Regions from separate parts of the Homo sapiens genome. Here regions 2, 3, 4, 5, 6 and 7 are each linked to region 1. Evidence: fine-mapped expression QTL. A gene starts in region 1. Each other region holds a variant in brackets. All regions are shown on one strand. Distances are between the middles of the regions.

Evidence for each region.
Region 2: its variant is fine-mapped to the expression of RHOXF1 in sun-exposed skin (GTEx, PIP above 0.99).
Region 3: its variant is fine-mapped to the expression of RHOXF1 in whole blood (TOPMed, PIP above 0.99).
Region 4: its variant is fine-mapped to the expression of RHOXF1 in transverse colon (GTEx, PIP 0.98).
Region 5: its variant is fine-mapped to the expression of RHOXF1 in whole blood (TOPMed, PIP above 0.99).
Region 6: its variant is fine-mapped to the expression of RHOXF1 in gastroesophageal junction (GTEx, PIP above 0.99). The same link has a PIP of 0.9 or more in esophagus mucosa, esophagus muscle, ileum, prostate and thyroid.
Region 7: its variant is fine-mapped to the expression of RHOXF1 in whole blood (TOPMed, PIP above 0.99). The same link has a PIP of 0.9 or more in adrenal gland, amygdala, anterior cingulate cortex, atrial appendage, caudate and cerebellar hemisphere.

Annotation. Positions count from the first base shown.
Region 1 is chrX:120,113,415-120,117,480 of GRCh38, reverse strand. RHOXF1 (Rhox homeobox family member 1) reads left to right here and starts at 1,568. Exons shown (of 3, transcript NM_139282.3): 1 at 1,568-2,016. The coding sequence starts at 1,619. All of the region lies in intron 1 of RHOXF1-AS1 (RHOXF1 antisense RNA 1), which reads right to left.
Region 2 is chrX:119,906,985-119,911,050 of GRCh38, reverse strand. All of the region lies in intron 4 of AKAP14 (A-kinase anchoring protein 14), which reads right to left. Among named protein-coding and RNA genes, the nearest start is that of AKAP14, 13 kb to the right of the region's middle. The variant C/T (reference allele first, on the strand shown) is at 1,836.
Region 3 is chrX:120,085,285-120,089,350 of GRCh38, reverse strand. The region is part of intron 1 of RHOXF1-AS1 (RHOXF1 antisense RNA 1); the gene reads right to left. Among named protein-coding and RNA genes, the nearest start is that of RHOXF2B, 9.6 kb to the right of the region's middle. The variant A/G (reference allele first, on the strand shown) is at 2,474.
Region 4 is chrX:119,780,897-119,784,962 of GRCh38, reverse strand. No RefSeq gene overlaps it. Among named protein-coding and RNA genes, the nearest start is that of SNORA69, 4.6 kb to the left of the region's middle. The variant G/A (reference allele first, on the strand shown) is at 2,081.
Region 5 is chrX:120,219,188-120,223,253 of GRCh38, reverse strand. No RefSeq gene overlaps it. Among named protein-coding and RNA genes, the nearest start is that of ZBTB33, 30 kb to the left of the region's middle. The variant A/TA (reference allele first, on the strand shown) is at 1,607.
Region 6 is chrX:120,262,063-120,266,128 of GRCh38, reverse strand. All of the region lies in intron 8 of TMEM255A (transmembrane protein 255A), which reads left to right. Among named protein-coding and RNA genes, the nearest start is that of ZBTB33, 13 kb to the right of the region's middle. The variant T/CT (reference allele first, on the strand shown) is at 1,679.
Region 7 is chrX:119,944,741-119,948,806 of GRCh38, reverse strand. No RefSeq gene overlaps it. Among named protein-coding and RNA genes, the nearest start is that of NKAP, 3.0 kb to the right of the region's middle. The variant T/C (reference allele first, on the strand shown) is at 2,261.

The sequences.
Region 1 (4,066 bases):
TTTTAAAAGAACATTTAAAAATAAAATTTTTAAAAATATTTTTAAAAAACAAAATAAAGTATATAACATCACTTAAGAGCACACACACAATCTCTAGAAAAATTAAGGATTCATGAGTTGTCCACCCTCAAAAGACATCTCCATGCCCTTCCTCATGACAGACTCTCTTAGCGCTTTCCTTTCTTTCATTTTCATTTTATTTCTTATTTTATTATTTATTTTAAAGAAAAGGGGCCTCTGTCTGTTGCCCAGGCTGGAGTGCTGCCATGTGATTCTAGCTCACCACAGCCTCAAACTCCTGGGTTCAAGTGATCCTCCCATCTCAGCCTCCTGAGTAGCTGGGACTAGTGCAGGAGCCACTGCACCAGGCTCTTCAGGGTTTTTCTTCGTAATTGGGCTTATTGGGGTCAGTGGTAGGAAGGCTGTGTAGTTACAAGGCTCTGTGGAGCAGAAGTGGCCCCACATCCAGTAAGCTGCATATCCTTAAATCCCAAATCTCCATCCCAAGATTGGAGATTTTTGGCAGGTATGCCCTTACTGGTGCTCTTCCTATACCATCCCCGATTTTATTTATTTATTTATTTTTTGCTTGTCCTTATAGCACTCCATTTTGCCATGAGTACAGGTTTCTCTTGCATAGCCAAAGATATTCAGTCTCAGGCTAACAGATTCAGCCTCGTGTTTATTCTGTGTTGACTTTCTCAAAGGGTGCGTTAGATTTCTTGCAGAGCACATCTTACCACCCAGAATGCTCTGCATGCCCATCTCCAAGATCCCGATCCCAGCACTGAAGAGAGCATGGCAGCTCTGCTTTCAGTGCCTTTGCTGGAACTCTGAACAAGCAGCCCCCAGTCAATCATTTCTGCTTAATTAATAGCCCGCGCCCTGTGCATGCTGCCAAATATGGAGGGTCAGGCCATGAGATATTCTCCAAACTTTTACTCAAGGCGTCCTATGGTCACCGTGAGATCTCACCTCCCCTCTGAGCCCCCAAATCAGCTTTCCTCAGGGTAATAACTAGGCCCGAGTAGGGTGTAGTCAGCAAAGCTGCAAGCTGGGGCCCCATGTTGCATACATATATGCCTCCTATTGGCCCTTTTCTTCTCCACACTGCCCCTGTGTTTTGGCCACCCCACTCCACCCTCAACTGCCACCCCCACCCACGACCCATACCACACCCCTCACCCCCACCCACAACCCCTACCCCCACCACGCACCCTCCACCCACACCTCCCATCTCCACCCGCTACCCCCACCCCCACCATGTACCCCCACCGGCAACCCCCACCCCAACCCACAACCCCTACCCTCACCCGCAACCCCCACCCTCACTGTGCACCCCCCACCCTCCACCCACACCCCCATCCCCACCTGCACCCCACCCCACACTCACAACCCCCCACTCCCACCTGCAACACCCCCACTCCCCACCCGCACCCCCCAACTTCCCATCCCCCCACTCCTCTCCATTCCCTCTCTTGCTTGTGCGCATAAGCAAGTCCCACTCATTGCAACTGTAACCAATACCAAGCATGAGAACAGGAACTAGCTCCACCCTCTAACCCCCACTCCAGCTGCAGACGCCACGGAGTTTGTGCAGGGGCGCAGCGCTCCAGCCATGGCGCGTTCGCTCGTCCACGACACCGTGTTCTACTGCCTGAGTGTATACCAGGTAAAAATAAGCCCCACACCTCAGCTGGGGGCAGCATCAAGCGCAGAAGGCCATGTTGGCCAAGGAGCTCCAGGCCTCATGGGTAATATGAACCCTGAGGGCGGTGTGAACCACGAGAACGGCATGAACCGCGATGGCGGCATGATCCCCGAGGGCGGCGGTGGAAACCAGGAGCCTCGGCAGCAGCCGCAGCCCCCGCCGGAGGAGCCGGCCCAGGCGGCCATGGAGGGTCCGCAGCCCGAGAACATGCAGCCACGAACTCGGCGCACGAAGTTCACGCTGTTGCAGGTGGAGGAGCTGGAAAGTGTTTTCCGACACACTCAATACCCTGATGTGCCCACAAGGTAAGTGGCCTGCTCCAGGAGCCACGAGATCTCCAAGTTCGTTTCGAGGCATCTTTTTCTCTCCCTTGCCCCACCCAATCATGAGGAAAAAGCCACTGGGGGTCCTTGCCTGCCTTTGTGCTGGTGTGGAGGGGGATATTTACCTCCTGGGCATCAAGGTAAATGTTTTATTGCAATGTTTATGTGAATGAAACCTGGAAACTAGTCCGTGCCTCCCTTTTATAAAGATGTGGTAAAATACACGGAAATATGAAATTTACCGTCCAAACCACTTTTTAAGTATAGAGTTCAGTTGTGTTAAGTATGTTCACATTGTTGTGCAATAGATCTCTAGAATTCTTCTCATCTTGCCAAGCTAAGTCTCTATACCAGTTAAGCAACTCCCCTTTTCCCCCTTTCCCCAGCCCTTGGCAACCACCATTCTACTATTTTATGTCTCTATGATTTTGACTACTCTAGGTATCTCATGTAAGTAGAATCATACAGTATTTGCATTTTTGTCACTGACTTATTTCACTTAGCATAAGGTCTTCAAGGTTCATCCATATCGCAGCATATATTAGAATTTCCTTCCTTTTTAAGGCTAAATAATATTCCATTTTATAGATACAGGTGCACACCAACAGTACATGGGGGTTCCAGTTTCTCCACATCCTCACCAACACTTGTTATTTTCTGGGGTTTTTTACATAGCCATCCTAATGGGTGTGAGGTGATACTTCATTGTAGTTTCGATTTGCTTTTCCCTAATGATTAGTGATGTTGTGCATCCTTTCATGTGCTTAGTGGCCACTTGTATATCTTCTTTGGAGAAATATCTCTTTAAGTCCTTTACCCATTTTAAAATCTGAGTGGCTTTTTCTTTCTTTCTTTCTTTTTTTTTGGTTATTGGGTTGTAGGAGTTCTTTATACACTCTGGATATTAACCCCTTATCAGATGTGATTTGCAAATATTTCCTTCCATTCTATGAGTTGTCTTTTTACTCTGTTCATTGCATCTTTTGATATACAGAAGTTTTAAATTTTGATATAGTCCAAGTTATGTATTTTTTCTTTTATTACCTGTGATGATGGCCTGTTTTTGTTGTTGTTGTTGTTTTTGTTGAGTGGGGGATCTGTCACCCAAGCAATCCTCCCATCTCAGCCTCCTGAGTTGCTGGGATTATAGGAGTGAGCCACCACACCCAGCTGTGGTCTGTTTTTATAAATAAAATTTTATTGAAATTGGGGTAAGGAGAATGAGGTACTGTCATGCAACTACAGTGCTAGATCCTTCCTTTATTTAAAATTTTGATAATTTGTTCATCATAGTTTTTTTTTGTTTGTTTGGTTGGTTTTTTGTTTTTCTGGTTTTTTTGTTTTGTCTTGAGACAGAGTCTCTCTCTGTGGCCCAGGTTGGAGTGCAGCAGTGCGATTTCAGCTCTCTGCAACATTTGCTTCCTGGGTTCAAGCCATCCTCCCGTGTCAGCCCCCTGAGTAGCTGGGACTGCAGGCACAGGCCACCACACCTGGCTAATTTTTGTATTTTTTTTGTGTGTAGAGATAAGGTTTCGCCGTGTTGCCCAGGCTAGTCTCAAACTCCTGGGCTCAAGCAATTTGCCTGCCTCGGCCTCCCAAACTGCTGGGATTACAGGCCTGAGCCACAGTGCCTGGTCCTCATCACAGATTTTTGCATTAATTGTTATTTATTAAAATAGTGCATTAGGGCCAGGCACGGTGGCTCAGGCCTGTAATTCCAGCGCTTTTGGGAGGCCAAGGTGGGAAGGTTGCTTGAGTCCAGGAGTTCAAGAACAGCCTGGGCAACATGGCAAAACCCCGTCTCTAAATAAAACTTAAAAAATTAGCCATGTGGGTGTGGTGGTGTGTGCCTGTACTCCCAGCCACTTGGAAGGCTGAGGCAGGAGGATCGTTCGAGCCCAGGACATGCAGGCTGCAGTGAGCAGTGATCCTGCCACTGCACTCCAACATAGACGACAGTGAGACCCTGTCTCAAATAATAATAATAAAAATAATAATAATGCATTAAATTATTCATCTTGGCCGGGTGCGG
Region 2 (4,066 bases), 210 kb after region 1:
AGGGCTGACTTATCTGTAAGGCATAGTAAGCTCAATACCTAGGGCCCACAAAAAAAATGTGTTCATTTCTTTTAAAATTAGAAGAAAAAGGCCGGGCACAGTGGCTCACGCCTGTAATCCCAGCACTTTGGGAGGCCGAGGAGGGCGGATCACCTGAGGTCGGGAGTTCGAGACCAGCCTGACCAACGTGGAGTAATCCAGTCTCTACTAAAAATACAAAATTAGCCCAGCGTGGTGGTGCATGCCTGTAATCCCAGCTACTTGGGAGGCTGAGGCAGGAGAATCGTTTGAACCCGGGAGGCGGAGATTGTGGTGAGACGAGATTGCGCCATTGCACACCAGCCTGGGCAACAAAAGCAAAACTCTGCCTCAAAAAAAAGAAGAAGAATATATGAATTTTAGGGTCATGATTATATTCATCTTTATACCAGTGCTGTCTTGAATTTTTTCATCTTTTGAAGGAGAAAGGGGGATACAAAGGGAAGAGTGCCTAGGGCCCACAGAAGTCAAAATGCATCCCTGATTCCTGGCACAGGGCCTTAGATTTCACAGGTATTCAACAAATTCAATTCAACTGAACTTCCTTGGGCTGGCTCTCAGGGCACCAGAAGCTTCTGAATCAAAGAAGAGCCTGAATTAAGATGAAGGTTCACAGAAGGAAGGAATTGGGAGAGTCTAACAAGTCCCAGTAATGTGGAGAGGGAGTACAGGAGACATCAAAAAGATTTCAGGCCCTCCTTTAAAAAAAATGTAGGCTGGCCTTTTGCCTCAGCTTATTTCAAACTTGTACCCAATTGGCTGTTTCAGTCCAGAGAAGAGCACTGGACTCGAGATTCCTTGAGATCAGGAGCTGTGTATTCTTTCATGTATCATTATTCCTTTTTTCTGAGACAGGGTCTTACTCTGTCACCTAGGCTGGAGTGCAGTGGCACGATCATGGCTCATTGTAGCCTCAACCTTCCCGGGCTTAAGTGACCCTCCCGCCTCAGCCTCCCAAGTAGCTGAGACTACATACAGGCATGCACCACCACACCTGGCTAATTTTTATATTTTTTGTAGAGATGACAGTCTCCCTATATTGCCCAGGCTGGTCTCAAACTCCTAGGCTCAAGTGATCCACTGGCCTCGGCCTCCCAAAGTCATTATTCCTTCCTTTTTTTTTTTTTGAGACGGAGTCCCTCTCTGTCTTCCAGGCTGGAGTGCAGTGACGTGATCTCGGCACACTGCAACCTCCGCCTCCTGGGTTCAAGCGATTCTCCTTCCTCAGCCTCCTGAGTAGCTGGGATTACAGGTGCTCACCACCACGCCCAGCTAATTTTTGTATTTTTAGTAGAGATCCAGGCTGGTCTTGAACTCCTGACCTCAGGTAATCCACATGCCTCGGCCTCCCAAAGTGCTGGGATTATAGGCACGAGCCACCACGCCTGGCCCCAAAATCATTACTCCTTTTAATGAAGGGGCCCAACAGTCAACCCCTTATGGCTCATTGGAGCATGCCTCTTTTTTTTTTTTTTTATGTTTTTGAGATGAAGTCTTGCTCCGTCACCCAGGCTTGAGTACAGTGGCGTTTTCTCGGCTCACTGCAACCTCCGCCTCCCGAGTTCAAGTGATTCTTCTGCCTCAGCCTCCCGAGTAGCTGGCATTACAGGTGTGCACCACCACATTTGGCTAATTTTTGTATTTTTAGTAGAGATGGAGTTTCTGTGCTCGCTTCGGCAGCACATATAGTAGAGACGGAGTTTCACCATGTTGGCCAGGCTGGTCTCAAACTCCTGGCCACAGGTGATCCACCTGCCTCGGCCTTCCAAAGTGTTGGGATTACAGGCATGAGCCAC[C/T]GCACCCAGCCAGAGCATGCCTTTTTTTTCAACTGTTCTATATTACTCAATATACTTTTCTAGCCCTAATGTTTAATCTGTCACACAATCACAGACTTTATAACATTGAATAGGTCACTAGAGATAATCTAATGCAGCCCTTCACTTTGCAGATGAGGATACCAGGGCCTAGAAGTAGGTAGGGACAGTCTAACACAATAAACTGGGACTGGTACCCAGGACTCCTGAGCAGCCCGCTCAGTGCTTTCTCCACCCCACTAGAAGCCTCAGTTCTAAGAGTTTCTTCTTCTCAGCTTGGCTCTTAGTGGATTTTTCCTCCCTTTTGTGAATGAAGGCAGCCTTACACATGACATTAAATTTAACTATTTTCATCAGGCGAATCTCCTCCCATTTTTATCCGTGTGCAGGCAGCAGACTTTTATGTATCAGCAGTGAGTGTGTTTTGTGATTTTTACATGATACTGCTTCATATACTCACTTCCAGGAAACAGTATCTCACTGTACTACTTGATCATGGATGGCTTAGCCAACTACATACTACTGGACACTCACAATCAACAGACACATAGAAGTATATGCACAAGGCAAAAAACAATGAAAAAGTATATGCACAAAACTGTTATCCATGGTTAAGTGACCTTTGGGGTAATAGAAACGGGTATTTTGGGTAATTTCATTTTCTAATTTGTATCTTTTTGCTCACTGGGCATTTTTTATAGTGATGTCTTTTTTTTATTATAAAAGTAATTTTAACTGTCTGAGGTGATGGGCATTCTCTGATTTTTCTTTTATAAGGAACCCATTTGTATATTCCTGTTGCCAGACTGTGTTCCTGAAGAGAATGAACCAACTTTGCCATTGGCAATGTGTAAGTGTTCCCTCCCCACAACTATACCATCCTATACCATCCTTCTTTTTTTTTTTTTTTTTTGACAGAGTCTCACTCTGTTGCCCAGGCTGGAGTGCAGTGGTGCGATCTCAGCTCACTGCAACCTCCGCCTCCCAGGTTCAAGTGATTCTCCTGCCTCAGCCTCCCAAGCAGCTGGGATTACAGGCACACACTACCACACCCAGTTAATTTTTTTGTATTTTTGTAGAGACAGGGTTTCACCATGTTGACCAGGCTGTTCTCAAACTCCAGACCTCAAGTGATCCGCCCGCCTCGCCCTCCCAAAGTGCTGGGATTACAGGCGTGAGCCACCGCGCCCAGCCTGTACCAGCCTTCTGATACCAGGTTTAATTATTCGTATTCACATTGTAGTACCTTAAAATCATTTGAATTTGTATTTTTAAATGATAATAAAAGTCTGCATTATTTTTGTCATCCAAAAGTACTTTTCCTGGGTCAGTAGAAGCTGATGAGAAAAAACAAATAAGAAAAAAAAATACTTTTCCTACTGTGGTGGAAAGAATATATCAGATAGAACTGACTGGGTGCAGTGGCTCACACCGGGTGCAGTGGCCACTGCCAGTGGCTGGCAGTAATCCCAGCACTTTAGGAGGCCGAGGCAGGAGGACCACTTGAGGCCAGGAGTTCAAGACCAGCCTGAGCAACAAAGTGAGACCTCATCTCTACAAAAAAATAAAAAATTTACTCGGCCATGGTGCTGTGTACCCATAGTCCTAGCTACTCAGGAGGCTGAGGCAGGAGGATCACTTGAGCCCAGGAGTTTGAGGCTGCAGTGAGCCGAGATTGCGCCACTGCACTCCAGCTTGGGCGACAGAGCAAGACTCTGTCTCAATAAATAAATAAATAAATAAATATTTTTTAAAAAGAATGTATCAGGCCAGGCACAGTGGCTCACGCTTGTAATCCCAGCACTTTGGGAGGCTGAGGTGGGCAGATCACTTGAGGTCAGGAGTTTGAGACCAGACTGGCCAACATGGTGAAACCCCATCTCTACTAAAAATGCAAAAATTAGCCAGGCATGGTAGCATGCACCTGTAGTCCCATCTACTCGGGAGCCTGAGGCAGGAGAATCCCTTGAACCCAGGAGGCAGAGGTTGCAGTGAGCCAAGATGGTGCCACTGCACTGCAGCCCTGGGTGACAGAGCAATGCCCTGTCCCACAAAAAAAAAAAAAAAATCAGACAGACATATGATCATAACTTTGTTTTGCTGCTCAATCAGAGAGAGGTTGGGCAATTTGTGCAAAGTTCTCATCTTTTAAATGGGTACACTGATATACCCACACACAGTTTTGTTGTGAGGATTAAACGAGATAATGCATG
Region 3 (4,066 bases), 28 kb after region 1:
AGCCTCCTGAGTAGCTGGGACTACAGGCACCTGCCACCACGCCCGGCTAATTTTTTGTACCATTAGTAGAGACGGGGTTTCACCGTGTTAGCCAGGATGGTCTCAATCTCCTGACCTCGTGATCCGCCCCCTCGGCCTCCCAAAGTGCTAGGACCACAGGCGTGAGCCACCGCGCCCGGCCCAATGAAACTCTTAAACACATGGGAAATCACATTGTTTTCTTGTATAAGTAATACTGGATGTTCTCATTGTTTTCCCTACCTTTTATCTACTGCCTTTGTGAATATAATTCTTTGGGATCATAGTAGAAATCACATACTTACTTTATTATATTATCTGAGCACTCTGTAGATCAAGTATAATAATTGATCTCTCTGTGTTTTCTGAAAGTAAAGATAGTATCTGCCAACATACAAAACAACTGATAAGATTATGCAAACATAGCTTTGGGTTTATTCTACACAGAACTTAACTTTTCTTTTGCCCTTTGTCAAAAGTACAATAAAATGTGAAAGTTATAACAAAGTTCTCAACCAGCTCAGTTCAGTTCAGTAATTCTCAACAGGACAGTCAGCTATAGGCCACAAATTTCTGTGCCTGTATCCCTTAGAAAGAAAAGGAAGAACACATTCCAAAAGAATATTCCAGTGTATGTATGGAACAGGAATTAAAAGAAATTAAAGAGTGTGCAAGCAGAAACTCAGTTGTATGTAAGAAAACCCAATTCCCCCTAAGAAAGAGAAAGAGCTGAAGTCCTTTAAAATTAACTGCCTGTTTTTCTGTGGCTAGTGAGCCTTATCTCTCCCACTTTCCCAGGCATTGTGAAGACCCTGTCTCCTTAGCTGTGCAGCTGCAAGGTCACTAGACAGAAAAACTCAAGTTGCAAAACATGTTTTTCCTTGAAAAGTAAAAAATGATATAATGCATGTCTCAATTGCCTTTGTTTCTCACTTCTGTAGTATACTTTCCTCTGCACAGATCTCCCCCGACCCACGAAATGCTTAAAAGGTAACTTAACTCTGTTCAGGGCTCAGTCCTTTGGATGTTAATCCGACTGGACCAGTGCACCTAAATAATTAATAAATATCCTCCTGAGCCCCATTGGTCTCTCTGATTCCTTAAAAATCTCGTAACATTTCTGGGAACTCGCCTGGGATTGGAGACAACAGATTTACTGTCTCATTTGCCTGGGGGACTAGAGCCCCAGGGCTGGGGAGACCCAGCATCCAAGGCACGCCACAGGGGAGCTTCACCCAGACAGAGACTGGCTCTCCCCACATCCCAGCAGACTGCCCGGCAATGCAACAGAACCAGGAACAGGGCTGCAGGACGATGCCAGCACTTCAGGAACTGTAGTAAGGAGCAAGTGCCTAAGGCAGGGAAGCCTGTCCCATAAGGATGATCACCTCCCAGGGAATGACCACTAATCCAACCCAGAGCAGCTGGGGGTGGCAGGAGAGGCTTGCTAATTTGGATGAACCTCGTGTCCCCATTAACAAAGTGAAAGTGGTTTACTGGATCTGGAGACAGGAACTGGGAGTGTGTGGGTGTGTGTGAACCCACCCAGGACATGAGAGAGGCTCGTTTCGTCTGATGAGGAGTCCTGGGCAGGGGAGGTGTGTGAAAGTGTATGAAAGAGATGGTCTTGGGAGAGGCCAATGCGGGGAGTAACGTGAGGAGGCACAGATCCCTTAGGGCAGGCTGTGTACTCCAAGGTGAGCGTGGAAGAAATCAGACCTAGGATGCCGCATACGGCCAATGGGACCAGTTTCACAGCCACAGCAGGCTGTGACAGGGGAAGGCACATTCCTGGCTAAGCAGTGTCTGAAACTCCCATAAAAGGACCTGGTCTGGTGGATCTGAGAGTGAAAGTGAGAGGGAAAGTGCACTGCAAGGGAGGAAATGGGAGGAAAAGTGTCGAAGCCAACTCCTTTGGAGTGCGTGATAAAGAATTTTAAAAAAGGATTTAGAGGTGATTATGGGATGAAACTGGATGCTCAAAAGTTAAGGACATACTGTGAAATAGATTGGCCTGCTTTCAATGTGGGGTGGCCCTCTGAAGGTACAATAGACAGAAAATTAATTGGCCGTGTGTTTAACGTGGTCACCGGAGTTGGAAGACAACCAGGATACCCAGACCAGTTTCCCTATATAGACTCTTGGCTCAGTGTAGCACAAACTCACCCCAAGTGTCTACAGCCCTGTCTAAAGAGATATTATAAGGCATTAGTGGCTCAGGCAGCCCAACCAAAGGAAGAAAGAAAAACCAGATATAGGAACAGAGATGGCTCAATTTATAGCTGCTGCACTAGCAGAAAGTAACCCTGAATTTGCTAGAGGGCGTGGCCAAGGCAGAGGTCGAGGAAGGGGGCAGACAAGACCAGGAGAGGAAAGCCAATCTTGGTTGGACAGGAACCAATGTGCAAAGTGCAGGAAAATGGGCCACTGGAAAGATGAGTGACCCAAAAAGGAA[A/G]AGGATGGAAATGATGGTCAATGGTCTAACACCCAAGTGCGTTATTCGGTTGCTAGTCATGGTGCATCAAGGGCAGATCCTGATCTGATTGGCTTAGCAGGGGCCAAGAATTTTGAGGACTGAGACAGACCAGGCTCCATCTTTTTAGGCCCCGGGGAGCCTATGGTCTCTATGGAAATAGGGGGTCAATTAATGGATTTTTTTGGTCGATACTGGTACTGATTTCTCTGTGGTAACTCACCCAATTAGCCTCCCCACAAAGAACTGTGCTACTATTGTAGGGGCTACTGGGGCCAAAAAAAAGAGACCTTTTTGCAAATCCAGGAGATGTGTTATTGGGGGACAAGAAGTGCAGCATGAGTTTCCGTATATGCCAAATTGTCCAGTGCCCTTGCTGGGGAGAGACTTACTCCAGAAACTGCAGGCAGAAATTTTCTTTACGCCTAAAGGGAATATGACACTGGAGTTTGGAAAGTCCAAGGCAATGGTATGAACTCCAACTGTCCCAAGGGCTGAGGAATGGTGGCTGTGTGAACCGTGTGCCAGAAGGTCACCAGAACCGACCTACACAATATATGGGGGATGCTTTTCAAGGTACCAGGTGTATGGGCCGAGGATAATACCCTGGACTTGCTGCAAACAGACCCCCAGTGGTAGCAGAGCTTAACCCTCATGCTGCCCCGGTATGAGTCCGTCAATACCCAGTACCCAGGGAGGCAATTGATGGAATAACAAAAGCATCTGAATCGGCTTTATACACATGGGATTATAGTAAAATGCAAGTCCTCATGGAATACTCCTCTGTTACCCATGCACAAATCAAATGGGGAATACAGGCCAGTGCAGGATCTCCGGGTGGTAAACAAGGCCACTGTCGCTATCCATGCAACAGTACCCAACCCATACACAATGTTGGGACAGATTCCTGCTGATGCCACTTGGTTCACATGTCTGGACTTAAAGGATGCCTTCTTTTGTTTGAAGCTTGCTCCCCAAAGTCAGAGGGGGCAATCGCAATATACCTGGACAAGGCTGCCGTAAGGGTTTAAGAATGCTACCATTTTTGAGGAGGCCTTGGCTACAGATCTTGAGGCTTTTGCGCCACCTAGTGACAATTATGTGCTATTACAACACATTGATGATTTCCTATTTGCCGCCCCCACGAGGGAGGAATGACTCCAAGGAACAGAGAGGCTTCTTCACGTGCTGTGTGAAGCTGGTTATAAAGTGTCCAAGGACAAGGCAAAAGTCTGTTTTCAGGAGGTTGGATATCTAGGATTCATGGTATCCCAAGGCCAGCGCAGGCTTAAGTGCACGCAAGGAGGCTGTATGTGCACTGCCCACCCCAGTTACAAGGCCAGGGAATTTCTAGGCGTGGCAGGATTCTGCCGAATCTGTATTCCAAACTTCTCCCTTACAGCAAGGCCCTTGTATGAGGCTATAAAAGGAAAGGAAAGAGAGCCCCTCCTATGGCAAAAGAAACAGGAAAAGGCCTTCAAGGATATAAAGGAAGCTCTCATCCAGGCCCCGGCACTAGGGTTGCCAAATGTAAAAAAGCCCTTTTTTTGTATGTGGATGAATGTCAAGGAATGG
Region 4 (4,066 bases), 330 kb after region 1:
CTGCCTTACAACCACACTAGGAGGTTCAGATGAAAGCAATTCCGGCTGGGCACAGTGGCTCACACCTGTGATCCCAGCACTTTGGGAGGCCGAGGCAGATGGATCACCTGAGGTCAGGAGTTCAAGACCAGCCTCGCCCACGTGGTGAAGCCTCGTCTCTACTAAAAGTACAAAAATTAGCCGGGCGTGGTGGCGCGCACCTGCAGTCCCAGCTACTCAGGAGGCTGAGGCAGGAGAATTGCTCAGACCCGGGAGGCAGAGGTTGCAGTGAGCTGAGATCACCCCACTGCACTCTAGCCTGGGCAACGGCAAGACTTGTCTCAAAAAAAAAAAAAAAGCAATTCCTAAGAGCATGGCGCTCACCAGAAATGTGAAGAGTGAGCTCCAGAATACCAAGGAAATTAGGAGCTTTAAAGGGATCTTTGGAACCTATCTCCTGAACCCCTAGACTGCAATTTTTTTTCTTTTTTCTTTTTCTTTTCTTTCTTTCTTTTTTTTTTTTTTTTTGAGACGGAGTCTTGCTCTGTCACCCAGGCTGGAGTGCAGTGGCGTGATCTGGGCTCACTGCAACCTCTGCCTCCCGGGTTCAAGCAATCCTCCTGCTTCAGCCTCCCAGTAGTTGGGATTACAGGTGCCTACCACCATGCCCGGCTCATTTTTGTATTTTTTTTTAGTAGAGATGGGGTTTCGCCATGCTGGTCAGGCTGGTCTCGAACTCCTGACCTCAGGTAATCCGCCTGCCTTGGCCTCCCAAAGTGCTGGGATTACAAGTGTGAGCCACTGTCCCCGGCCTGACTGCAAATATTTTTTCTTATTGCATCAGTGATGCCTTCATATTCAAAGAAAGTTGCCACTGTGAACAGCAGTTGGTAAATATTAACATACTTAAAAATGTTACTCAAGGCTGAGCGCAGTGGCTCGCCTGTAATCCCAGCACTTTGAGGGGCCTAGGCAGGTGGATCGCTTGAGCCCAGGTGTTTGAAACCAGCCTGCACAATATGGCAAAACAAGAAATTGGCCAGGGTGGAGTGCACCTGTAGTCCTAGCTATCTGGGAGGCTGAAGTGGGAGGATCACCTGAGCCTGGAAGATCGAGGCTACAGTGAGCTGTGATCATGCCACTGCACTCCAGCCTGGGTGACAAGAGTGAGACCCTGTCTCAAAAAACGATACTCAAGTCCAAAGGAGAGGGACTTGATAAAATTAACTGGCAGTCACAAGACAGGGACATTTCTAACCATTTCAGAGCATTAGAAAGCAGTCTTCTGCTTCAGAGTAGGTTGGGTGTTTGCTAACAGAGCCCAAGGAGGTTAAGTGACAAGGCCAAGATCTAATGGCATAGGCAGCTTTCTCTACAGACCTCGAATAGTTGGGATTACAGGCACCCAAGTATTGCACCTGTAATCCCAACTACTCGGAAGGTAGGATTAGGATTTGGAGAAAGGGAAAATGACATGGACATGGGGTTAGCCGTGTGTGAGGGGTTTATTTGGAGCCTGGGAGTTGAAAGCTGTGGGGTCTGGATCCAGTGGCCCCTCGCTATCTTGTACAATTGCCAGTACCTGTTTCCCCATATCTATGAAGGGAGTTGGGTTAGATCAGTGCATCTTGAAGGAAGGAAGGGGAACTTGCGATGTATTTTAAGATTTCAAAATGGTACTGAAATAGTAAAGAAGGGAAGCATTAGATGACAGGTTTTGAAAGACAGGAAGTCACCCTTGTGATGACACTGCCCATCCCTTGACCTACTGAGAGGCAGGCAGCAGATTGGTTGAGTTTGCTGCTGTCTGTGTATCACCAGACTATAGTCTGGATTCATTAAACACTGCTCCCGGGCCGGGCATGGTGGCTCATGCCTGTAATCCCAGCAGTTTGGGAGGCCGAGGCAGGTGGATCATTTGAGGTCAGGAGTTCGAGACCAACCTGACCAACATGGTGAAACCCTGTCTCTACTAAAAATACAAAAATTAGCCGGGCGTGGTGGCACATGCCTGTGGTCCCAGCTACTCGGGACACTGAGGCAGGAGAATCGCATGATCCTGAGAGATGGAGGCTGCAGTGAGCCGAGATCGTGCCATTGC[G/A]CTCCAGCCTGGGCCACAGAGTAAGACCCCATCTCAAAACTAAACAAAACAAAACCCTGCTCTCCACCACTCACCAGTTGTAAGCCCTCAGCGTCCTCATCTGCAAAATGGGGTCTCCCTCAGAAGGTTGTGAGGATGAAATTTAATAATGCACCAAAGCACTTGGTTCAGTTGCCTGACTAGGAAAAGGAGATGAGGAGTAGGGAGTGAGCAGGAAGAACGTTTTGGTGTCAGTCCCCAGCACAGATGCACCATATGTTGGCACAGGGAGAGGGACGTTGTGATGGGAGGCTGAGATAAAATCAGGCTGAGCTGCCATGGAGTTGGTGCTCAACATAAGCTGCTAAATTGATGCCAGTTCTCTTCCAACTCCAGGGTTTTAATTTGGAGGGACAGAGTAACCCCTCAAGGTCTTGCAGGCAAGCCTAAGGTTGAATCCCAGCTTCATCACTGAACCAACTGTGGGACCTTGCTCTCTTAGAAGACTTTTATATCCAGTCATACCTGACTACCTCAGGTTTGTAAGGATTGAATGATGTCTGTAAAGGATTAGTTCCAGGAGTGTATTTTCAAGGTAACTTCAGTCTATGCTCCCAGGTAAAAAGGTTTGTTTTTTTTTTGGGAAGGAGTCTCGCTCTGTCGCCAGGCTGGAGTGCAGTGGCGCAATGTCGGCTCACTGCAATCTCCGCCTCCCGAGTTCGAGTGATTCCTCTGCCTCAGCCTCCCGAGTAGCTGAGACTACAGGCACGCACCACCACGCCTGGCTAATTTTTTTGTATTTTAGTAGAGACGGGGTTTCACCATGTTGGCCAGGATGGTCTTGGACTCCTGACCTCGCGATCTGCCTGTCTCAGCCTCCCAAAGTGCTGTGATTACAGGCGTGAGCCACTGTGCAGAGCCTTGTTTGTTTTTTTTTGTTTTTTGTTTTTTGGATTTTTTTTTGAGACAGAGTTTTGCTCTTGGAGTTCAATGGCGCAATCTCGGCTTACTGCAACCTCCACCTCGCAGATTCAAGCGATTCTCCTGCCTCAGCCTCCCAAGTAGCTGGGATTACAGACCTGCACTACCATGCCCAGCTAATTGTATTTTTAGTAGAGACAGGGTTTCACCATGTTGGCCAGGCTGGTCTCGAACTCCTGACCTCAGGTGATCCACCAGCCTCGGCCTCCCAAAGTGCTGGAATTACAGGCGTGAGCCACCATGCCTGGCCGTAAAAAGTTTTTAAAAAGAGAAAAGGATCAATTCCACTAGATATTCTTCCATTTTACAGGTAAGAAAAAGGTAAGCTGGACGCAGTGGCTCATGCCTGTAATCCCAGCACTTTGGGTGGCCGAGGCGGGTGGATTGCTTGAGCTCAAAAGTTCGAGACCAGCCTGGGCAACATGGTGAAACCCCGTCTCTACCTCAAATACATAAACTTAGCTGGGCGTGATGGTGCACACCTGTGGTCCCAGCTACTTGGGGGGCTGAGGTGGGGAGGATCGCTTGAACCCGCGAGGTAGAGGTTGCAGTGAGCCCAGCTTGCACCACTGCACTCCAGCCTGGATGACAGAGTGAGACCCTGTCTCAAAAACAAAACAAAACAGAAAGTACCACCTCCCATTCCCTTGTCCTGGAATGTTCTCCCTCTTCATTTGGTTAACATCCATTCATTCTTCAGGTCTCAACCTGCTTGTCACTTCCACAGGGAGACCTTCCCTGACTTCCCCCTCTCTTCTTCCAGTCCAGTTAGGTTCTTCTGCTTACTACCTCTTAAATTACCCTGTAGTTTTCCTTCACAATTGTAACTATAAGGTTACATGTGTGGTCAATTAATTGATGTCTGCCTCCTTTGCTAGACTGTGAGCTCCACAAGGATAGATCCAGAAGGGTATGTCTTGCTCGCTACACTTTGCTTTCAACAAACTGCATCTGGCATGAAGGAGGTACAATAAATGCATTTGTTGGCTGGGCGCAGTGGCTCATGTCTGTAATCCCAACACTTTG
Region 5 (4,066 bases), 110 kb before region 1:
GAGGAGCTACTCACTGTGGTTCTCCTCTGAGCTGTTCTAACACTTAATAAAGCTCCTCTTCCTCCTTGTCCACCCTTCACTTGTTCGCATACCTCATTCTTCCTGGATGCAGGACAAGAACTCAGGCGCCTCTTTGTCTTGTTCACTCTTCACTTGTCGCATACCTCATTCTTCCTGGACACAGGACAAGAACTAGGGCAAAGATGTCACCAGCCACAGAGGTTTCTGGCCAGAAAATTGACACTCCAAAGATCCCATAACAGAACTAGTCATTTTAATGCAAGGTCAACATCAATGTGGGTGTGGGGGGTCACAGAAAAGGCTTTTTCTTAAATGCCTGGCAGCTACTAAAAAACAGAACAAAACAACCATGTCAGGTGGGCTTTACGTCTACTCAGCATCCTAGTTAATGGAGTTAACATTGTATTTAATCCTTTTGGAAGTTCCCAATCTGCAAATTGTGACACTACAGGCCTTTTCTCCCTGTCTGACTCCTCACTTTCACTCTCCTATTTTAGGATTTAGGATCCTTTCTCTGCATGAATATAGTCTAAAGAAGGCTAGTGTAATAGAGCTCATTTTGGGCATGTTCAAATCTATTATCAAATCTCCCTAAATAGCCGATCCCCAAAGTAGGCTGTTTTATGGGCCAATATTAGTTCCCTATTCCCAGTACTGATTACATAAAACAGTTCTATTATATTTGCAAATAAGAGAAAGGGAGAAAACATCTACCAAGAGTTTCTTGGGGGAAGGTCATGCCTTAGAATTTGGAAATAGATGAGAACATTTTCTTTCTCTTTTTTCTTGTGGCTCCTTTTCCTTTTCAGAATTCTATTAAGAGACCACTATGAAAACCAGAAAAGCAGCTCATCAAACCTTGTCTTTCGTTTCCTCTGAGCTTTCCATGCCTCCTGAGATAGTGGAGGTTTCTTTCATCCTCCCAACCTGACTGTGGGAGTCAGCCAAGACTGACTGTGAGCCCTACCTATGGTGTTAGGATGACAGCACTCAGGGGCTGCTTGTTTTGGACAACCCACCATCAGATCTGCACATGTTTCCATTACTGCATGCACACACACACTCTCTCTCTCTCTCTCTGCAGCAAAACTAACAATAAACTCATCTTGATGTTTTTTCCCTGGCAATAGTTCTTTGACACAACTTTAGGTTTTCCACGGTCTCAGGTAGTCACCTTTTGATCTCATGACCTACAAATAAGTCTTCACTACTGGAGAAAATGGAAGAGTATTTCAAATTAACAGAGGTTTGAATCAACCCTGAATTGACAGCCACCCTACCACCACTAAACAAATTCTGCAAAACCCACCTCTTCATAATTGTACCACCAAAAGGGAAGAAAACAATTCCTTTGATATTAGAAATTCCTCAAGAGAGTGTTCATTTGTGCATTTGATAGTTTCATAATGTTGAGTTTGTGTGGCAGCTGCAAGGCATACTTTGTGTATAATTCTCTAATATTTGCATCGTCTTTCTGTCTGGAATTTTATTTGTTTTTGTGGTTTTTTGCCATATATATATATTACTTTAAGTTCTGGGATACATGTGCATGGAATTTTATTTGTAACTGTTCTTTGTTTTTTTT[A/TA]GACAAATCTAAAGATGCCACTCCCTATGTTGCTTTACCAAAGGCTTAAGAACAACAGCAGAAGGACTTGGCCTTCATCTCCCTGCTTCAGTCTCATTATAACTAAATGTACATTAGTGTGTTTTGGGGGTGAATTACTTCCTCACACCACTGCCTAAATATTTACAAAATCACTCATTTTAGCTCAGAGGTTATGCTTGGTTTTAAATACTTCAAATAGTTAAGTACAATTGAACCCTATTTATTTATTTATTTATTTTTGAGAGGGAGTCTTGCTCTGTCGCCCAGGCTGGAGTGCAGTGTCGCGATCTCCGCTCACTGCAAGCTCTGCCTCCCAGGTTCACGCCATTCTCCTGCCTCAGAACTCCCGAGTAGCTGGGACTATAGGTGCTTGTCACCACGCCCAGCTAATTATTTTGTATTTTTAGTAGAGACAGGGTTTCACCGTGTTAGCCAGGATGGTCTCTATCTCCTGACCTCGTGATCCGCCTGCTCGGCCTCCCAAAGTGCTGGGATTACAGGCATGAGCCACCGCTCCTGGCCCTATTTATTTATTTATTTAGAGACGGAGTCTTGCTCTGTCGCCCATGCTGGAGTGCAGTGGCGTGATCTCAGCTCACTATAACCTCTGACTCCCATGTTCAAGCAATTCTCCTGCCTTAGCCTCCCAAGTAGCTGGGATTACAGGTGCATGCCACCATGCCCAGCTAATTTTTGTATAATCCAGCTCCTCAGTGCATTAATTTGAATACTTCCAGCTCAGACTGAGTCCCAACATGAAGATACACAGAAGACAGTAGTATTCTCCCTTAAGAAGGGCTAACAGCCTCTGTATTTACTTTTCTCATTTCCACTCCTTAAAGCCCCCAAAGTTCAAAACTTATTTTCTAATCATGGAAGAGGCAATAAAAACACCACTGCCCTCCAGGTTCCCATCCAGGAGCTCCTGCATCACTGTGGGTACTGCTGCTACCTCATCCTCCCACTCCTCCCTGCTTCTCCTCTTCTTTCGCCTCTCAGAACTATCTTCCTGAAATGAATTCTTTTTTTTTTTTTTTTGAGACAGGGTCTCATTCTGTCACCTTGGCTGGAGTGCAGTGGCACGATCTCAGCTCACTGCAGCCTTCACTTCCTGGGCTAGAGCAATTCTTGTGCCTAAGCCTCCTGAATAGCTGGGACTACAGATGTGCACCACCATGCCCAGCTAATTTTTATATTTTTAGTAGAGACGTGGTTTTGCCTTGTTGGCCAGGCTGGTCTTGAATCTTGACCTCAAGTGATCCACCTGCCTCGGCCTCCCAAAGTGCTAGGATTACAGGCGTGAGCCACCACACCTGGCCAAAATTGAATTCTTGTTCCCCACTGAAGTGTCAAATAAATAAGAGCCAGGCTAGGTTGAAGGCACTGTAGTTCTTTAAGAAGTGTTTTACAGGTACCCTGTGATGTGTTAATATTCTGAATATTAATAGCTCTTAACCATGGGTCCTATGCTTGACACTGTACATGAGTTTTTATCTGTACAACAACCACAATTGTCATCATCCCCATTTTAAAAGAAATTAAACCAGAGTGGAATAACTACCTCATGCATAAACAAGCCACGTCCCGCCTTGATGAATGAAGTGATTCTACTCACTGGACTTAACAGGGTATGGCCCCTCTTCTCCTGACAAGTTGGAATAGAAAAGGGCAAGTAGACAGAGGCTGGACCTGTTATATCAGGAAACCCTCTTTGAGGGTGTAAGGACATTTGATCAAACTGTCTCTTAGGTCCCTTTATCCTGGAGGACATTTATCATTTTTGTCATTAACAGTGCCTGGCACAGTAATTAAGAGCTTGATTCATGTGAGCTATTGCTATTATATGCATTGTTACTCCCATGTTATTGATAAAAACTATTTCTAACTCAAGAGACTCTTATCCAAGTCATCAGCTAGGAGTGAAAACTGAAACTGGATAGGGAGTATGGTTAGGCATTCAATATAGTACATAACTCAAACAGAAAAGGTCTGAGCCAAGCCCCTGGGCCAGGAGCATCCAGATATATCCAGAAGATGGGGGAGTGCTGAGGGAGATCCACAGACTGTGTGTGTGATGAAAGGGACATTGGAGTATAGTAGGACATACAGTTGAAAGGGAAGAAATCAAAATGTGGCTATGCTGTACAAAACTGGCAGATATGTATTCTATATGCCACTGGGAACCAGGAGATATTTTGAACAAAGAATTTACATAAGCCAATTCATGTTTTGGGAAGGAAACACAAGCTTTAGGGGGTAGAAAAAGAGGTGGAAGCTAAAGTTAGGAGTCTGATTAGAGGGAAAAGTATTGAATAACTCAAGTTTTTAATTAATATATAATGGTTGTACATATATTTCTGGGGGTACATATATTTTGATACATGTATACAATGTATAATGATCAAATAAGGGTCATTGGGGTATCCATCACCTCAAATA
Region 6 (4,066 bases), 150 kb before region 1:
AGGCTGGAGTGCAATGGCACAATCTTGGCTCACTGCAACCTCCACCTCCTGGGGTCAAGCGATTCTCCTGCCTCAGCCTCCCGAGTAGCTGGGATTACAGGTGCGTGCCACCATGCCCGGCTATTTTTTTTTTTTTTTTTGTATCTTTTGTAGAGACAGGGTTTCACCATGTTGGCCAGGCTGGTCTCAAACTCCTGACCTCGTGATTCACCCGCCTCGGCCTCCCAAAGTGCTGGGATTACAGGCATGAGCCACCGTGCCTGGCCCACCCTTACTTTTTAATAACAGCTACTATTCACTGAGTACTTACTATGTACTAAGCATTGTGCTAAGTGCTTTACATATATCATCATTCAATCATTTACCTCTTTAAGAGAAGTACTCTTGCAATTGCCATTTTTAAGATAAGATGACTGAATCATGGAGAGATTAAGTGACTTCACCAAAGTCACAGAGGTGGTAAGTGAAAGAGTAAGGATTTATATCTAGGGCTGACTGATTCCAGAGATTGGGTTGGGGGATTTTTGAAGTTGTGAATCTAAGCGGAGCACAGCTCTTTCCCCAGTTAATTTTGGGATATTTATACTTTCTACTGGATATTTATACTTTCTACTGGACTCATGGTCCTCAGAAAGGGTCTCTTTACTCTTGATCCCCACTGAAAAAGGATTCCCTTCCTTCATGCATTCCTCAGAGGGGAATTCAGGGGCTGCTTGGACACTTTTTATATGTCTCCCACTTCTTTCCCTAGGCTCAAGATGTCTTTAGTATTTCCTGTTTGAAGACTTTATAATTGTATAGCCTAAGTCTTGAGGGGGTAAGATTTTAAGTGATTTCTCTCTAGAACTTAAATGGTTTCATTTTAGTATTTTAGTTTAGCTTTCTTTTGCTCACCAAGTTTCATTCCCTTATAGTTTCATAGGCGAAAATACCATTCTTTACACAAGAAAGTCAGCCAGGCGCGGTGGCTCACGCCTGTAATCCCAGCATTTTGGGAGGCCAAGGCGGGCGATCACCTGAGGTCGGGAGTTCGAGACCAGCCTGACCAACACGGAGAAACCCCATCTCTACTAAAAATACAAAATTAGCTAGGCATGGTGGTGCATGCCTGTAATCACAGCTACTCAGGAGGCTGAGGCAGGAGAATCACTTGAACCCAGGAGGTGGAGGTTGTGGTGAGCCGAGATCACGCCATTGCACTCCAGCCTGGGCAACAAGAGAGAAGCGCTGTATAAAAAAAAAAAAAAAAGGAAAGTCAAGAGGGCAGGAAACGTCTGCTTATATTCCCAGATAAATAAAAAGGAGTCAGCAAATGCACTCCAGATCTGACAATAAAACCACCTGAAGCACAGACCCACCCCCAAAAGGCCAGAGCTCCCTCATGCTCTTCTGATTGTAAAATGACCTAAGTTACAGCCAGAAAATGGACCTTTCTAGACTTTCTTCTGAATGACTTCCCATTTTGGTTATTTCCAAGTAGGACTATTTCTGTGACTTTGGGTTTGGTGATTTCAACTTCCTTTTGACCCTGAGGCTAATAGGAGGATGAGGAAAAAAGACTTATAATGTTTTGTTTTAACCCCTCAAAGTCATACCCTTATTGGGTAGCTGTCCAGTGAGGAAGCTTGGGAAACACTTCTTGTGGTCAGACATGAGCAAGGATTTGGGTCTGATCAGC[T/CT]GGCCCTGAGGAAGTTTTGAGTGCTGAGCTTAGAGAAACTGGATTCTTTCAAACACTGGGCTCCAGGGTGTCCTTGCTTCTCAGGAACTCCTCATACTCCAAAGCAGGAAGGATATAAGCTGAGACTACCTTTGCCTCCTCGCTCATCTGTCCAACACTCATTTCTCTTGTCCTTTGCACTATTTCCCCACCACCCCTTCAGCTTTAGCCAAGTAGTCCAAAATCTGTAGGGTACAAAGCATCAGTTTTCACTTCTGCTGGGAAATTAAACCCAGCTATTTATAAACCCCTCAAGGTTCCCAGCAATATTTCCCAGTCTGGCATACTGGGCCAGTACCCCTACTTTACTCTAACCATGGAATGGTCCCTTTCCTATCCATTTGGTGACCAGCCAAGTTTAAGCTTAAAACGAAAGTCTCAACCTATGCAATTCAAAAGTGCCTCTATTTTTCCTCTTTATTTAATCACGAGGGTACACTAGGTTTCACCCTAGCCACTAAAAGTTACTCATTATAAATTGGGCCCATTTATTAAAAGGATTGCTTTGATCCTAGGAGGGTACAGTTTATGGCACAGGTTGCTGAGAGCCTTAGAAGGCTGTTGTTGCTATCACTCAACTTTTTCTTCCCCCCGCCACCCGCCCGCCACCCCGCTGTCAAGTCTTTCCTTTCGTCCCCTCCTTTCCCTTGTTCCTGACTCATCCTTTTTTTTTTCCTCTTTCTTTTACCCACTCTTCTCTCCATCTCCCTAGCCTTTGCTTCCAGGGGCAGAACAGAGAGGGAATGCACAATACCGACAGATGCTGGGATTTTACCCTTGGGACACAGTGTCTTTAACTAGTAATTATCACCAGCCAGTTCCTGGGCTCTTTGTGAAGTCACTGTCCCACAAGGCTCCTGGAGAGAAGCATGCCCTGACGGAAATGCGCATTGATCTTGAAGGGTGTGGGTCAGCCATCAGGCAGGCAGGAGGCAGGCTAAGGTGGAAGAGGAAAGCCATCTGTGTCCCTGAAAGGGTGGTGCTCCTCTTCAAGCACCATCAGCCTGTTGGCCACCCCAGCCTCTAAGAAGCCGCTCAGGAAGCTGGAGCTGACTAGGCCCAGCAGTAGGCTATTTAGATGCTCTTCGTGCTTGGTGGTGCACAAGGATTCAAAGTTCTGTTCTCCTGAGCTGCCCACAGCATTATTAAAGTCACACTCTCAGGCAGGAACCAGAATACACCAGGCCAACTCCCTGGCTGCGACAAAGCCAGATCTTTCCCAAGGTGCCTGCCTGTTGCTAGGAAACTATGCACTGGTACTATGGGCCTTTTCCCCCGCTAAACCCCAAGGGTGTGTGGACTGCAGCCAGTTAGCTCCCTAGCTCTGCCAGGAACCCTTCAGCTTTATCCTTAAGACTCCCAGCATCCTCAAAGGGAAGTGAGAATCATGACCCCCTCCCCCCATACTTCTCAAACACAAAACTAAGAAGTGAAAACCCAAGGGCCGTTGTACCACCCCCTTTTATTATCAAAGTGTACAACTGCCACCCACAGCAGCTGCTGCCCACAGAAGCCTTTTAATGCCTCTCAGGACAGAACTGCCTTTAGCTTCACTTCAGGAAACTTGCCTCTCCCTTCTGTGGCTGGGAACACCTAAAACTGGCCTGCTGCCTCTCATGTCATCTCTGTAGTGGGATTTAGAGAGGCAGTGAGTGCCATATGCCCAGGCACAGAGATTCTTTGCCCTGGTGGGTCTTTGTTCCCCTCTCTGGTTAAGAGGAGAGAGTTCTTAGTTGAGGAAAGCAACAGAACAGGAGGGAGGGAGAGGAGGAGGAAGGGAGAGTTTGAAGGGTGCAAGATGGAAAATCAGGAAATCACTATACCGATGTTTTTAACAAAGGGTATCTTCTTGGAGGGAGGAGGAAAATTGAGTTTTTAAGAAGGAATCTAGATTGTCTTGAGTCCACTGCCTCAGGTTGTTTTGCCTTTAAGGGCTCTCCAGGTTCTACGACCCTGCCATTTCTTTGGAGTGAAATAATGGATGGGATTTGGGAGGCAGGGGATGATGGCAGCTAGCATCTCTTCTCAGTCTTAACATTATGTGGTAAGGAAGATTTTTCTGTGTCTCAAGCAAGGCTTAGAAATCTGGACATAGGTTTTATTTATTTATTTATTTATTTTCGAGACGGAGTCTCACTCTGTCACCCAAGCTGGAGTGCAGTGGCGTGATCTGAGCTCACTGGAACCTCTGCCTCCCAGGTTCAAGCGATTCTCGTGACTCAGCCTCCTGAGTAGCCGGGATTACGGGCACCCACCACCACTCCCAGCTAATTTTTGTATTTTTAGTAGAGATGGGGTTTCGCCATGTTGGCCAGGCTGGTCTCAAACTCCTGACCTCAGGTGCTCCAC
Region 7 (4,066 bases), 170 kb after region 1:
CCCTGGCTAACATCCTAGTCCCCTAGGGACCCGGTGGGCAGCAGAGCACTCAAATTCTCCATCCATGTCTAGCACTGAGCTCTGCTTCATTCAATGTTCCTCTCTCTATCTTTTGGGTGCGCATGAGCACACACGATCTTTAGCTCGAATATATCCTAGAATGGTCACATCACTTATTTTATCCTGTGCTTTTGGTCCTCAGAACACACCTGCAAGTTCCAGCCATATTTCTACCTGTTGGTAGATACAGCTCCTCCTAGTGGAGTCAAATTAGAAACAGTTCTCCATTTATGACAGTCTTTCCAATGTGAGATTCAAATAGGCTAACCCAAGAGTGCGAAATTTTCCATATTTAGGGGCCTAATATCATCCAATTTCTTCCTGTAGAAGTAGTAGCAATTCATTATCAGAGAAGAAATGCAGATAAGTGAGGTGTTAGAGGAACTGACAAAGCCAGCACGCCAGTTAAGTTATCAGGGATCACAGGTCTGTATTGACTAAGAAGTATTCTAAAAGAAAATTCTTTTTAGAAATTATGTAGTTCGGGTTTTGATCCTGCAAATTCTTTCAAAAGAGGTTAGTGATTAAAAACATTGTTTTAATCTCGCAGTCTCTAAAACAATTGTTGGCATAATTGGAAAGCATCCTCAAATTCAAATGGACACAAACTACAAGAGTCCCCCTAACACCCACTCCTTAAATTCCATTTCCACAACCCAGATCCCTGCCTCAGTCCGCTGGGTGTTAGCCATGCACCTGCCCAGACAGCTGCAGAGTCTCAGACTTTGAAGAGGAGTAGTGAATGGAAGCTGAATACCTCCATATCCCATAACACACAAATGGTTTAATTCCTGTAGAGAATGGATCAGGTCAGGTGAGGTGGCTCACGCCTGTGATCCCAGCACTTTGGGAGGCCGAGGTGGGCGGATCACTTGAGCTCAGGGGTTCCAGACCCACCTGGGCAACATGGCGAAACCTTGTCTCTACCAAAAATGTCAAAACTTAGCCAGGCATGGTGGTATGCGCCTGTTGTCCCCGCTACTCGGGAGGCTGAGGTGGGAAGATCGCTTGAACCCAGGAGGCGGAGGTTGCAGTGAGCCAAGATAGTGCCACTGCACTTTAGCCTGGGTGACAGAGTGAGACCCCCATCTCAAAAAAAAAAAATTTAAAGAAGAATAGGCCAGGCGCGGTGGCTCATGCCTGTAATCCCAGCACTTTGGGAGGGTGAGGCAGGCGGATCATGAGGTCAGGAGTTCAAGACCAGCCTGGCCAACACAGTGAAATCCTGTCTCTACTAAAAATACAAAAATTAGCTGGGCATGGTGGCGCATGCCTGAAGTCCCAGCTACTTGGGAGGCTGAGGCAGGAGAATCACTTGAACCTGGGAGGCAGAGGTTGCCCAGGCTGGAGTGCAGTGGCAGGACCCAAACTCTGCAAGCCTGATCCCACTGGCTGTCTGCACCTCCCTGTGTGCTCTAGCTCCCCCTCACTGCCAACTCATGAAACACAGGCTGCTCCCAGGATACCTGGCAAGAAGAGCACCATGCCATTCAGATGTGCAGGAGTAGGGGTTTTCTCTTTCCAACTAAAGTACATGTCCACCAGCCATGGGGCAGGTAGACCAATCACTGTTGCAGAGTTGGTTTTATAGGCAACTGATGTGAAGGTGTACTGCCTGTTGTCGCAAAAGTTAGGCAGTAGGTTTTCCATTGAAAACTTTCTTATTAGAAATTCTCCCCAATCTCCATCCCAAATCACAGAATTTCTCTTACTCGATTAAGTTTTTGGACCTGGCCCCATGACAAATTAGTTATACATAGAAGATATCCAATAGTGTGGTCCACTCTTTCCATTTAACATTATTTCATACGTCTTTCCCTTAAATTCCAAAAAAAGGAGATTTCTGATAATCAATTGGCATTAATTTTCATGATCTGATAAATTACTTCTTAGGAAAATCCCAGAGGCCATCATGCTACTGGCAGGCTGGACTTGGAATTTCTTCAGCAAACCTATGTACCTTCAAAAATCCAAATTGAGGGCTGTGCATGGAGGCTCACGCCTGTGATCCCAGTACTTTAGGAAGCGGAGGCCGGCAGATCATTGGAGGTCAGGAGTTTGAGACCAGCCTGGCTTACAGGGTAAAACCCAGTCTCTACCAAAAATACAAAAATTACCTGGGCATGGTGGTGGGCACCTGTAATCCCAGCTACTTGGGAGGCTGAGGCATGAGGACTGCTTGAACCCAGGAGGCAGAGGT[T/C]GCAGTGAGCCAAGATCCTGCCACTGCACTCCAGCCTGGGCAACAGAGCAAGACTCTGTCTCAAAAAAAAAAGTCGAAATCAGTAGAATTAATGTTGGAATGCCCTTTGATTTAAAAACAGTAGAGGCCTAGGTGCAGTGGTTCAAGCCTGTAATGACAGCACATTGAGATGCCGAGGTGTGAGGATCACTTGAGTCCATGAGTTCAAGACCAGCTTGGGCAACATGGCAAAACCCCATGTCTACAAAAAATTTAAAAATTAGCGAACCATGGCACATGCCAGCTACTCAGGAGGCTGAGGTGGGAGGATCCCTTGAACTCAGGAGGTGGAGGTTGCAGTGAGCCAAGATCACACCACTGCACTCCAGTCTGGGTGAGGGAGCCAGACACTGTTTCACAAAAGAAAAAAGAAAAGAAAAACAGTATAAAATGAATAGAAATGCTGGGCGTGGTGGCTCACGCCTGTAATCCCAGCACTTTGAGAGGCTGAGGCGGGCGGATCACAAGGTCAAGAGATCAAGACCATCCTGGCCAACATGGTGAAACTCTGTCTCTACTAAAACTACAAAAATTAGCTGGGCATGGTGGCACGCCCCTGTAATCCCAGCTACTCAGGAGGCTGAGGCAGGAAAATAGCTTGAACCCTAGAGGCAGAGATTGCAGTGAGCCAAGATCACGCCACTGCACTCCAGCCTGCTTACAGAGCGAGACTCCATGTAAAAAAAAAAAAAAAAAAAAAAAAAGAATAGGAATACTGATCCTTAACTCTATATTGCTGGGCTGGCATACAATGAGACTAGTTTAAGGAGCTGGACAAAGAGGGGATTACAAATTCCTTTTGCTGGATAGATAATAGAGGCTGGGTAGGGTATGTGGGAGGAAGCAGAAGGATGAAGAGAAATAGGTTAAAGGGTACAAACATACAGTAAGATAGAAGAAATAAATTCAATGGTTTTTGTTGTTGTTTTAAGACAGTGTCTCACTCTGTCGCCCATGGAGTGCAGTGGATCAATCACGGCTCACTGCAACTTCGATTTCCGGGCTCAAGTAAGTGTTCCTCCCACCTCAGTCTCCTGAGTAGCTGGCATGCACCACCACACTCGCCAAATTTTTAAATTTTTTGTAGAGACAGGGTCTCCCTATGTTTCCCAGGCTGGTCTCCAACTCCTGGGCTCAAGTGATTGGCCCGCCTCGGCCTCCCAAATTTCTGGAGTTACAGGTGTAAGTCACCATGCCCAGCCCCAAATTCAATGTTTGATATTGACAGCATGGTAGAGTGAGAGTACACTATTTTTTTTTGGAAACACAGTCTCACTCTGTTGCCCAGGCTGGAGTGCAGTGGTGCAATCTCACTCTCGGCTCACTGCAACCTCAGCCTCCCGGGTTCAAGCGATTCTCGTGCCTCAGCCACCCTAGTAGCTGAGATTACAGGCACGTGCCACCAGGCCCAGCTAATTTTTGTATTTTTAGTGGAGACAGGGTTTCGCCATGTTGGCCAGGCTGGTCTCAAACTCCTGACCTCAAGTGATCCACCCGCCTCTGCCTCCCAAAGTGCTGGGATTACAGACGTGAGCCACCATACCAGGCCGAGAGTACACTTAACAAAAATGTATTGTGCTCAGATAATGGACACCTTAAATACCCTGACGTCATCACTACACATTATATACATGTAACAAAATTTCACATGTATCCCATAGATTTGTACAAATTTAAAAAATAATAAAAAATTAGCTGTGCATGATGGCACATGTCTGTAATCCCAGCTACTCAGGAGGCTGAGGCAGGAGAATCACTTGAACCTGG